Linked DNA regions of Homo sapiens. The protein of the gene in region 2 interacts with the protein of the main gene of each other region in a biochemical or structural test. Each region holds a gene or a part of one and is shown on either strand. Other genes may lie near its edges. The genes, in order: PAX6, NFIX and SKI.

What was found.
Region 1: the proteins of NFIX (region 2) and PAX6 form a complex in vitro, tested with the Homo sapiens proteins (one study listed by BioGRID).
Region 3: the proteins of NFIX (region 2) and SKI form a complex in vitro, tested with the Homo sapiens proteins (one study listed by BioGRID).

The regions. Positions count from the first base shown.
Region 1 is NC_000011.10:31,790,723-31,794,322, forward strand, and holds part of PAX6 (paired box protein Pax-6), read right to left. Parts: intron 3,393-3,600; coding exon 3,310-3,392; intron 3,081-3,309; coding exon 2,930-3,080; intron 2,832-2,929; coding exon 2,716-2,831; coding exon of another isoform or gene 2,542-2,715; exon of another isoform or gene 2,483-2,541; intron 139-2,482; coding exon 1-138. UniProt on the Homo sapiens protein: Transcription factor with important functions in the development of the eye, nose, central nervous system and pancreas. Required for the differentiation of pancreatic islet alpha cells.
Region 2 is NC_000019.10:12,993,671-12,997,487, reverse strand, and holds the start of NFIX (nuclear factor 1 X-type), read right to left. Parts: upstream 2,014-3,817; 5' UTR 1,651-2,013; coding exon 1,624-1,650; intron 1-1,623.
Region 3 is NC_000001.11:2,301,198-2,305,014, reverse strand, and holds part of SKI (ski oncogene), read right to left. Parts: intron 2,038-3,817; coding exon 1,912-2,037; intron 1,731-1,911; coding exon 1,615-1,730; intron 1,176-1,614; coding exon 913-1,175; coding exon of another isoform or gene 907-912; intron 723-906; coding exon 430-722; intron 1-429. UniProt on the Homo sapiens protein: May play a role in terminal differentiation of skeletal muscle cells but not in the determination of cells to the myogenic lineage. Functions as a repressor of TGF-beta signaling.

The DNA.
Region 1 (3,600 bases), on a different chromosome or scaffold from region 2:
GCCCGAGGTGCCCATTGGCTGACTGTTCATGTGTGTCTGCATATGTGGGGGGGTGTAGGTATCATAACTCCGCCCATTCACCGAAGGGCTGGTGGGCAGCATGCAGGAGTATGAGGAGGTCTGGCTGGGGACTGGGGGCTGTGAGGAGAGAGGCAAACCTGTGGTTACTGAGGAACACATCACACAGCCACAGCCCCAGGCTCCCTCCTCCCGAGGAACTCTGCCAACAAGTCTGATCATTAAAGATGCCTTCACGTGAAGTACTGGAATTCCATATGATAAATCTAAGATTGGGCCTCGAGCTAGTCCTTCCACTGGCCACAGCTAGAAGAAAGCTGCCTATGTATCAAGCCTCTAAAGCACTTTAGGTTCTGACAACTGTCCAGCTAGATGGTTGCCACTATCCATAAATTAATAGGATTTTTGTCTCTAACCTCTGCTAGCATCTTTGAAGAACCTATAGCATGAGGACCTTCATCAAAACACATCCCCTCTCCCTGCAAATCTGGATTTATTTGGGAACCCTATGACCCCCAGAGCCCATATCTCAAGCTTTGGGACAGAGAGCAGTGGGAGGAGCTCTCAGTAAAGTATGGTTCAGGGACCTTGGGAACCTTTCACTGATGGGATTAAAGATTCTTTGAAGAAGCAGATCTGTAATGACCCCAAGTTAAAGTGATCAGAAGTGTTAGTAAATATAACGACCTCCATCCTGAGAATTAACCATGACTTCCTAACAGACCCAAAAGCCCAGACTGACTTATAACTAGAAAACTGTTGCTACCCTCGAACTGTTCGGAATGGCAGCACTGAGGAGGTAAACCTTTCTCCTAACAAAACGCCTCATGAGCTCTCATGGTACTATGCCATGGCAGCAAACTTGGGATGAATTAAAAGAAGTGTGTCGGGAACAAGCAGGTCAGATGATAGTACAGTATACTATCATTTCTCTTCTCTGCAAACTGGAGAAATGTTTAATTTCCAAAATCCATATGCTCAGAGAGGGAAGCATATCAGAGAAGGTCCAGAGGAAGACACCCACCATTTGTAAAATGATGATTTTGGTCAAGAGAATGAATAAATGGATAGACAATCGGGCTCACCCACTCCAAAATTCAAAGAGTAGTTTTCTCTGAAGAGTAAAGTTATTGATCATTTTGATTTTCTTTATGCTTAATGAATGCATGTACTTTTTGAATTATACAAATTATGTAATTTTTAAAAGTCAGTGTTTGAAATAGATTGATTCCCCATACCGCTCTGTATGTGGAAACAGCCCTAATATAATTGCAGCATCTACTTGTTCGTCTTATTATTTTCTCACATACACATTTTGCTATCTTCACAGAAACCTGGATGTTGTTATAATACATGAAACTGAACGAGACACTCTGTGGCCTTATTAAAGTCAGATGATGAATGCTAACATCAAGTTCAAAGAGGCAAACAGGCCTTGAGGGCCTGCCAGAATTTCAGCTTGCATTTGTTTCTAATTCCTGCAATGAGTTCCTCTAGGCAACCTGACTTCTGGAAAATTCCAACGCAGTTATAGCAACACCAACTAATGGGCTGTTAATCCCTTAATTTACATCAATTGCACTATGGCCAACAATATCCAGATGCAATAAAAATAAACATGTGAATAATTCCTCTGAAGTTGCTTATCTAGCTGCTCCTATATTAGTCTGAAGACTGTGAAACATTTATTTTGCTGTTATTTGGATTTGAAATCCAGCAAAAAATGTTCAATGGAGAATAAACAATCAGTGTAGCCCCAGAACTGTTTCCAGCAGAGGCTCATGCTGGCCAATATCGTACCATCTAATATCTCTAATTGTTGCACAAACAGGAGTTCTAGGAAAACCACTGGGAAAGGCCTACCAGAAGACAGACATTTTTCCTATCAAGAATCCATCCAGCAACAAAGGTCTAGTACAAACCATCTGCCTTATCCAACTTACATCATAAAGGGTGAACCTAGTGCAGGACCTCTAAATGTAGGGGCTAATAGATATTTGGGACAGAACTAAGAGGAGAGGCAGGCTGTCATACCAAGTGAATAGCATCAAGCTTCCCAGGCAGCTAGGAGGGCCACAAACTCGTCACACCATTCACAGCAAAGACACACTAAATTTCCAGCAAATACCTGCTATGCCTTTTCTTATTGTAGATACAGACAGAAAACTAGCATTCTCATTATATTATGTATATCTCACCATGTAAATATGAATCCCATTTCTGATCCTTTTTTCTTTCTCACTAGTTTATCACATATACCCAAAGTAATGCCCCAAATGCGTGCACAGATTCTATATTTAGCATACAAACACATTAATATAAACCCAAATTTTAAACTACTAATCTGCTATCTGATAATGTGCCAGCATTATTTCCACTTTCTGGTGCAAGGCTCCCTGGTACCCAAAACATGCCCCACCACCACCCAACATTATCAAGGTAACAGTATAATAAAAGGCAGATCAACCTGACAAAACTGGACAGATTTTTATTACTCATTTTTTTAGGGCATGAATTAATGAGTCAATCACTTAAAAGTGATGGGATTGACTGTCTCCGACTTGACTGGTCAAGCCAATCACTGTAGTGCGAAAAGCTCTCAAGGGTGCAGACACAGCCAATGAGGTCCGCAGGCCCTGAGCCACTCCTCACTTCTCTGGGGCCTGGGTTATGCAGGCCACCACCAGCCGCACTTACTTGCATAGGCAGGTTATTTGCCATGGTGAAGCTGGGCATAGGCGGCAGAGCGCTGTAGGTGTTTGTGAGGGCTGTGTCTGTTCGGCCCAACATGGAGCCAGATGTGAAGGAGGAAACTGAGGGCAAGAGAAATGACAGTAGTCAGAGTGAGAGTCAGAGCCCGGAGCAAACAGGTTTAAAGACATTGATTCGTAGTATTAGTATTTCAAATTACCCGGTGTGGTGGGTTGTGGAATTGGTTGGTAGACACTGGTGCTGAAACTACTGCTGATAGGAATATGACTAGGTGTGTTGCTGGCCTGTCTTCTCTGATTCCTCAGTTTTTCTTCTCTTCTCCATTTGGCCCTTCGATTAGAAAACCATACCTGGAAATCAGGTGGGACAGGTTAGCACTGTGTCTACGTCGAGCCCAGCCCCACCTTGGCACCTCCACTGCTGCCCTCCCCACGCCCATGGCAGCAGAGCATTTAGCAGACTGAACCTTTTTATTATATTAGTCCTATAAATAAATAGTACTCTGTACAAGCACCTCTGTCTCTAGGAAAGACAAATGGTATGAATCACAAAGTGTGAAACTGCACAGTCTCTCGGTACCTGTATTCTTGCTTCAGGTAGATCTATTTTGGCTGCTAGTCTTTCTCGGGCAAACACATCTGGATAATGGGTTCTCTCAAACTCTGAAAGAGTAAGTTGATTTTCCATATTGTGCCAGAACTACACAAAATATGTTGACCAAACTGTGCATCAAACTGGTTCCCACCTCCCCACTCCCATTACCTCCAACCAATTCCCTTTAAAATGCTTCTAGTGTTGACTGTACTTGGAAGAACTTTCCCACCAGAACCAAGTTAAATTTTCTTTGGAATGGCATTCAGTGACCTTTCT
Region 2 (3,817 bases):
ACACTGCCATGGTGCTCAGGGTGCCTGCTCACACCTGCATGCACACTGCAACATGTATGCATGCCGGTGCGCCCTCGCCAACACGTACTTGGGCCTGCTTTCTACAGGAAAACCCGCTCCCTGGGCCACACACACGGCCATGCCACGCAGGCCTGCCCATGGCCGGCCCACAGGGGCTACACACAGACTCTAGATTGATTCACACTTGCATACACTCTCACCTGTGCATACAGGAGTGTGGTGTAGCCACAGCTGACACACACCCCGACAAACCCCTCGCCCCTTGACACCACTGCACACTCCCGGTAGGACCCAGACAAAGTAGGAGCCATACCCATGTGGACTGCCACTGTAAGCTGTGGACACACTTGGCACATGGCTGACAAGGATCAGGCTGGGCAGAGGGGACAATTAGGGCCTGGCCTAGAGAACCCCCACATGCAGGCCTGGCTGGCAGCAGGGCTAAGCAGCCCCTAGATGTCCCCTCTTCGGAGACTGTTACCAGCTGTGGCTTGGCCCTGCAGGCAACGCTGTCAGGGCCACTGTGGGACTCTGGGCAGCTTCTGTGCCCTCTTAGAGCCTCAGGCCACAGCCCAGGGAGAGTTGGGTGGCCCGACAGGCATCCTCGAAGCTTTTGCCGCAGCCGTGCGCCGCGCAGGGAACTTCGCTGCAGGCGGGACGCGCTCTAGCAACGCGCCAAGGTCGGCGCTGTTGTGCCCGAGGCTGACCCGACGGTGTGGCCGCAGCACTGTCGGCTGTGTCCACGGCTGCCTCCCGCCCCTCCCGCCTCCAGGCGACGGGACGGGATTCCCCAGGCCTGCCGGGTCCACTCCGCAGCAGCCCGGGTCGCTGGGGCCAGAAAGTTTGCGCCGAGGAAAGTTTGGGGGTGGGGGGGCAGAGGCTGCGACGTCCGGGGTCGGAGAGGCGCGGCCACCGCTGGCAGCGCGCCCGCCCCCCTCTCCCCTCCCCTGCCCCTCCGAAATTTGGGAGCCCCGCCATTTTCTTAGCCCCGCTCCCATGTGAGGCCTAAACAAAGACTTTGGGGAGACGCCCGGGCCGCTCGGCCCACCCCAGGCACCCCGGCCGCACGCAAGGGCCGCCGCCACGCACGCCGGCCACTGCCACCCTCGGGAACCGCTGCGCCCTCCCCAGGAAGCGTCGCGGGACCCAGTGTCCCCTCTGCGCCCTCGGGACCACCCTCTTGCCACTCTGTCAACCCCGCAAACACTGCCAGCGACCACGCTGCCCGGGTGCGCGCTACAGTAGCCCACAGGTCAGCCGGAGTCCCGCTGCCCATCGCACCCCAGTCGAGCGCGCACACACACACACACACACACACACACACGTACACGCACTCCCGCCTGCGCTCCACGGGCAGCGCCACGACGCAGCTGGCCACCCCCGGAACCCCCAAAAGGAGTCCGCCCGGTGGCCAGGGTCGCACGCGCACGGTGACGCCCGCACGCGTGCCTGGGCTCCCCGCGGCACAGCCTGCACCCCTCGGCGGCCCGCGGGCTCTCGGCCCCCCCTTCCCGGCCGCCGCGCGTCCCCTCCGCCCGCGCCGCCGGCCGGCCTCCCGCGCCCGCTCCCCTCCCCCGGTCGCGCGGGGGCGGCGGCCGGTACCTGGGTGAGGCAGTACGGGGAGTACATAGCTGGGCGCCCGGGCGGGAGCGCGGCGGCCGGCCGCGGCGAGGGGAGGCCCGGCAGGCGGCGGCCGCGCTCGGGCTCGGGCTCCGGCTCGGCTCCTCCGGCCTCCGCCGCGCTGCGCCCGCCCGGCCCGCGGCCCCGCGCTCGGCCCGGCGCCGCTCCGCGCTCGCCGCTCGCAAGCTCGGCCCCGCCGGCTCCGGGGCCGCCGCTGCCGCCGCCGCCGCCGCGCTCGCCGCTGCCTCTCGCGTCCGCCGCCGCCGCCGCTGCCGCCGCGCGTCTACTCCATGCCGCCGCCGCTCGGCCGGTCACCCTCGCCCGCCGCCGCCGCCGCCGCAGCCGCCGCGCTGTGAAAGTGAAAGTTTAGACAAAGTTTGGAAGCGGCGCACTCCGGGGAGAGGGAGCGGGCGGGCGGCGCGGGCGGGAGGAGGGGCGCGGGGAGGGGCGGGCAGGGCGGGGGAGCGGCGGCCGGCGCACACACACAAGCACACACATGCACACACACACACGAACACACGCACACGCGCGCGCGGGGGCGCACACCGACGCGGCCGCCCTGACACGTGCTGGCCCGCGTTCCAGCGCAGACACACGCTGACACGCAGCGGGACTCGGACCCCGCCACACATGTCACGTCCAGAACGCCTGGCCACACGTTCCGCCTTCGAACACAAAGCACACTCGGACACCAGTGCACACAAGGCACAGACACACAACCCCTACACACGGGCACACACACACAGCAGTCTGGGAAAACACCCACGACCCACGCTCTGACATGCACCGTCCCACCATGGTATCCAGGCACACAACAAGGAACCGCGTATAGACATACACCAAAGCAGGCGTCACGTAGACACACACTGATATACACGAAGACACACCAGTGCATGACACATAGAGATGCACACTGATGCACACACACTGACGCATGTTCCTGCAGAACACAGACACATGCAAGATCACACAGCCACACGCTGACACCTTCCAGACACACAATTCCTACACGCAGACACATACACAACACACACACATCGCAGTGCCAGAACACACTGGCAGTTGTGGCAGTACACCCCGATGTACAGAATGACACTGATGATTGAGAGGCCGAGGCCAGTGGATTGCTTGAGCTCAGGAGTTCAAGACCAGCCTGGACAACATGGCAAAACCCCTCTCTACCAAAAATACAAAAATTAGCTGGGTGTGGTGGTGGATGCCTGTGGTCCCAGCTACTTAGGAGGCTGAAGTGGGGGGATCCCTTGAGCCCGGGGAGGTCAAGGGTGCAGTGAGCCATGATAGTGCCATTGCACTCCAACCTGGGTGACAGAGCAAGACCCTGTCTGAAAAAAAATAACTAAATAAATAAGATGACACTAATGAAGGGAAGATACACAATGTCACATAAACACACACCAAACACCTGGAAGTGAATGCAAAGGACCCCAATACAAAGAGATACACAGCGTCACAGATACAAAGCAACACTGGCTGTCACAACACAACACACAGACACACACACACACACACACACTGGGTTGCCCAGATGTACCCACAGGCCTTGGACACACTGACCAACTGATGCCCAGGCGGCTGACAACCCCCCTGGGAGAATCATCTAGCCATGCACACAGGGATCACACACATACACCCATGTCCCTTACGTGCCCCCCCCCCAACACACTTGTAATGTGGCCCTGATCATCGACATAGGCAAATATAGCAGGAGACCCACAGCTCAGCTGTCAGGGACAGAATTGGGCATCAGGGCCTCCGTACATGTACACACACACACACACACTTTGGTGAGGTTCCAGCCCCTCTTGCGGGCCCTGACTCCTCATTTTCAGAACATAAAGGCCTGGGGGGAGAGGTAGTGCTGGGGACCCTGGAGCAAGGGGAGAGGAAGCCCTCTGGTAACCCTCAGGGTGGGTGGGGAGGCAGTGCCTACAGCCCCCAGGCAGCTCCTGCTGAGACAAAACACCCGCCTGCTGCCAGGTGCAACCAGCACCTTCTTGCTCTCTTGGGCCAAAAAGCTGTGGCAATTCTCAGCTATGCATTGTCTGTTAAAGGGGGTGTCAGTGCCCAGGGCGGGGGGTGCGCACGCACACAGGGTTGGCTGTGCCCATTGGGCTCTTGCAAGCAGGCACAAAAGTATGCATGTGTACGTGAGTAT
Region 3 (3,817 bases), on a different chromosome or scaffold from region 2:
GGCGGAGCGCGTGAACACCCACTCCTGGAGCACACAGAGCAAGGAACTGTCTCCATGCAGCTGCTCCCAACTCTTTCTGCCACTAAAAATAGCCCGGCCTCCCTTATACCAGAGAAACATGGCTACTTCCTCAGTGGGGCCACCACGCAGGGTGTGTGATCCTGATGGGGAAAGCTGTGGTCAAGCCAAATGTAGTGGCCTCCTGGGATGTCCATCAGCCTGGGGACACTGAGGGGCTCACCATACCCAGGGCTGCAGCTTTTGGGAGACGGACCCCCAAGGTCCCAGGCAGGCCCACTGAGGTGGAGGCAGAGAGGAGCGCATGGGGCAGCCAGGAAGGGAGGAGGCACCACCTGTGCCCGTTCACCTGGTGCAGGCTGTGCTCACTGCCCGTGCCCTGGACCTCCCAGCACCACTCGCCCCGCTCACCTGGTGGAGGCTGCGCTTGGCCTGCAGGGCTGCGCTGAGCTTCTCCTCCTGCTTCACGCGCATCTTGACCACCTCATGCAGGAACTTCTCTTTGGCTTCCTTGGTGTCCAGGCCGCCCTCCAGTGCCTGCCGCAGGTGCTCCAGCTCCGCCTCCAGCCCACTGGGGGCGTCGGCAGGGGCCGCAGCATCAGGGACGGCCGAGGGCAGGGCACGCGCACCCGGGGAGCCCAGGTCCTTGGCGGAGCTGGATGAGGTAAAGGACGGGGAAGAGAGCGAGGACAAGGAGGAGGTGACTGAGGAGGAAGCAGAGACAGAAACAAAGTCATGGAAGTGCCCGGCAGCTCCACACCAGGGAGACGCGCCGCTCCCGGAGGAACCTGCGAAACATGGGGCCACCAACGCACCCCCGGCGACCAGCCCCCCTCAGCCAGTGCCACCCCCACAGCCCACAGGGAGGAGGCACAGAAAGCGACTCACACGTACATTCCTCCCTGCTTTCAACTTCCACCTCCGCCTCCGAGTCCTTGTCCTCCTCTGGGGCAGCCACGGGCGCCAGCGTCTCTGGGGCTCCTGGGGTGTCCACAGTCAGCTTCCGCTTCCGAGGCTGGGTGCAAGTGGCGAGAGGCTCGGGGGCCCGGGAGACGGCGGCGGCACACGGAGGGCTGCTCACAACCTTCTGCTGGGCCGGCGGTGCGAGGGCCACGTTGGGCGCCACGGCTGTCTCAAAGCTCTTGTAGGAGTAGAAGCTGGAGGGGCAGGCGGGTGTCGGGAAGGTGCCTCTGTCCCCAAGCACCACCCAGACACATCCTGGCGCACACCCCCTCTGAAGGTGTTAAACAGGAAAGACTTTCCCAGCTCCGAATCTTCAAGTCAAGCTTACAGTTCCCTAAGAACCCGTAAGCGTTTTCTGCTTGCTGGGTCTCTTGCGAAGGCCAGACACAGGCCAACACATCAAGAAGCTGCGCCCAGCAGACAGGGCTCCACCCACGACTCCACCCAGAACACAGGGAACGCTCTAGGTGTGCTCTCCCTGATGCCAGCCAAAGGAACCAACACCGAGACTGCCCTGACCAAAAGGCGGCAGGTCTGGGCACCCAGCCTGCAGAAACATGGGCGCGTCCGCATGCACAGCCCTCGTGGAGCCTCCCCCGTGATCAGAAACACCTGTGAATGGCGCCCACTCACCTGTCTCGGATGAGGGCCGGGAGGTGTGGGGAGAGCTCTTTCTCACTCGCTGACACTGCGGGGGACCAGGGTCGGAAAGCAGAGAGGCGCTGGCGAGGGTGAACACAGCCCAGGCTCTGTCGAGAAAGAGTTGTCTGTGTGAGTGACCAGGAGAAAAACAAGCCACTTCATGTCCCTGAGGCTGCGCCGGGTGCCAGCCCTCAGTAGCGGGCAGGTGGAGCTGCCAGCCGCTGGGTCTGCCCAAGGAGAAGGGCCCAGTACCCACCACCCCAAGGACCCCGACAGGCCCCACAGCACCTTATTGGAAGAGCCGGCCAAGGTCCGCAGCCAGCTGGACGGCTTGTCCTTTTCGGAAGGCGCGGGGGACTGGGAAGAGGTGTCATCTGTTTTGGGTCTTATGGAGGCCGGAGGCTCAGAGGAGACCTGCGATCAATGAAAGGTTTTGTTGGCACCTGTGGTTCCCAGGGCAGGGTCCCTCCACCAGCCCCGTGGCTGGCACATGGCAGTCAGAGCCCCATGCACTCCGGCCACAAACGACCCTGAGTGGCGCAGAAGGCAGATTCCAGGGCACCCCCCAGGAGACCAAGTTCACTTTGCATAAAGGCCCTTAGGCCACGCGCAACAGGCACGTGGAGGCTGTGCTGAGGGACAAGTCATCTCCGAGAGAACAGAGTGGACCTTGTCCTGCCATTCCGGGTGACCTCACCCACGGCTGCAGCAGGTTTGGGATGGAGCACCAAGACCCACTCTCCCCTTCCACAGCGGCTCAGCCTGGCCAGGAGTCCCTCGTCCTTCTCCTGCCAAACCCCTTTCCTAGAACCCGAGTGTGTCCTCAGAGGGTGCCCAGCGCTGGGCACTCAGCTCAACCAGCCACAGCACGGCGAGAGCCACTCACGACGGATGCGTCTGGGAAGGGCAGCTGCGGCACAGGGGTGGTCGCGGGGAGGGGACACCGTGTCCCTGTGGGCCACTGGCACAGGTGCATTAAAGAGTGGGCATTCTGGCTGCCCCCTCCCCATGGGAAGGAAACATTTTCAAAATGAAGGACACCATCCCCAAGGAGCCTGGCTCCTACAGGATGGCACCACACACACCTTTGCCTCGCTCCTTGCCAGCCCCGGTGCTGGAGGAAGCTTAGCGAAGGTGCCCAGACCCAGCCCACCCAGAACCAGGTCCCGCTGGTGGAGGAAGCTTAGCGAAGGTGCCTGGACCCAGCCCACTCAGAACCAGGTGTTGTGTGTCAGGTGCTGAGGCACATCCCCCAAGAGCCAGTGAGTGATGTGGGTTGTGTGCTGGGGGCCTGAGCCGGTACATCCAGCCTCAGGCAAACGTGAACTCCCACAGCCCTGCGGCTGGAAACCCCTGAGACGGTGCTGCCCGCAAGGCACAACTGAGACCCAAGGTCTCTTCCCAAGCAAAATCACAGGGCAGTCTCCGTAAAATGGGCCATTCCTCTACTGCCAAAGACCCCACAGGACAGCACAGAGTCTCCAGGGCAGCTGGCACCAGGTCTACACCACAGGCCAATGCAGAACAGGCCACACAGGGCAAGGGGCCCTTCACAGGGGTGAGGTCCCACTCACTCTGCCGAGGCCAACCTCAAGAGGAGGCAGCAAAGTCGGGCGGTGGGGGCTCCGCCCTTGCCCTCAGCCAGGAAGCCTTGGTGGACAGAGCACACTCAGGGCCGGGGGCTCTTCCCACCTCCAGGACTCTAGGAGAAGACGCTGCATCAGGAACCAGCCTCCTGGAGGCAGCAGGGACCCTGCTTCCCTAGGGGGAAGATGGGGCGCAGGGCAGGCTGTCCATCAAGGTGCTCCAATTATGGGGATGGAGGGCCCTGGGGGAAGATCTGGCCAAAGCCCGTGGCCTCCCCTGCAGCACGTGCACCCACCCTGCAGCCCTCAGGGAACAAGCAGGGTGGGGCCAGGGGAGGGGCAGGTGCCTGGCTCTGACCTGGGCCCAAGGGAGAAAGATAAGTGCTCGGGCGCACAGGGCCGGGGACGCAGGGCAGGCAGCCCCTGAAGGCTCACGGCTGTGGATGGTTTTTTTCAGAGACACTAAAATAGCTGTTCAGGAAAAAAGACACTGAAAATACCCCCTCTATGTGGCGGCTTTCGAGGGGAAGTGAGTGTTGATGACGTCTGGCGGAGGCCCTGACCGCAGGGTGCTGTGCCTATGCCTGGCAGGGGCGGGTGCCATCCTA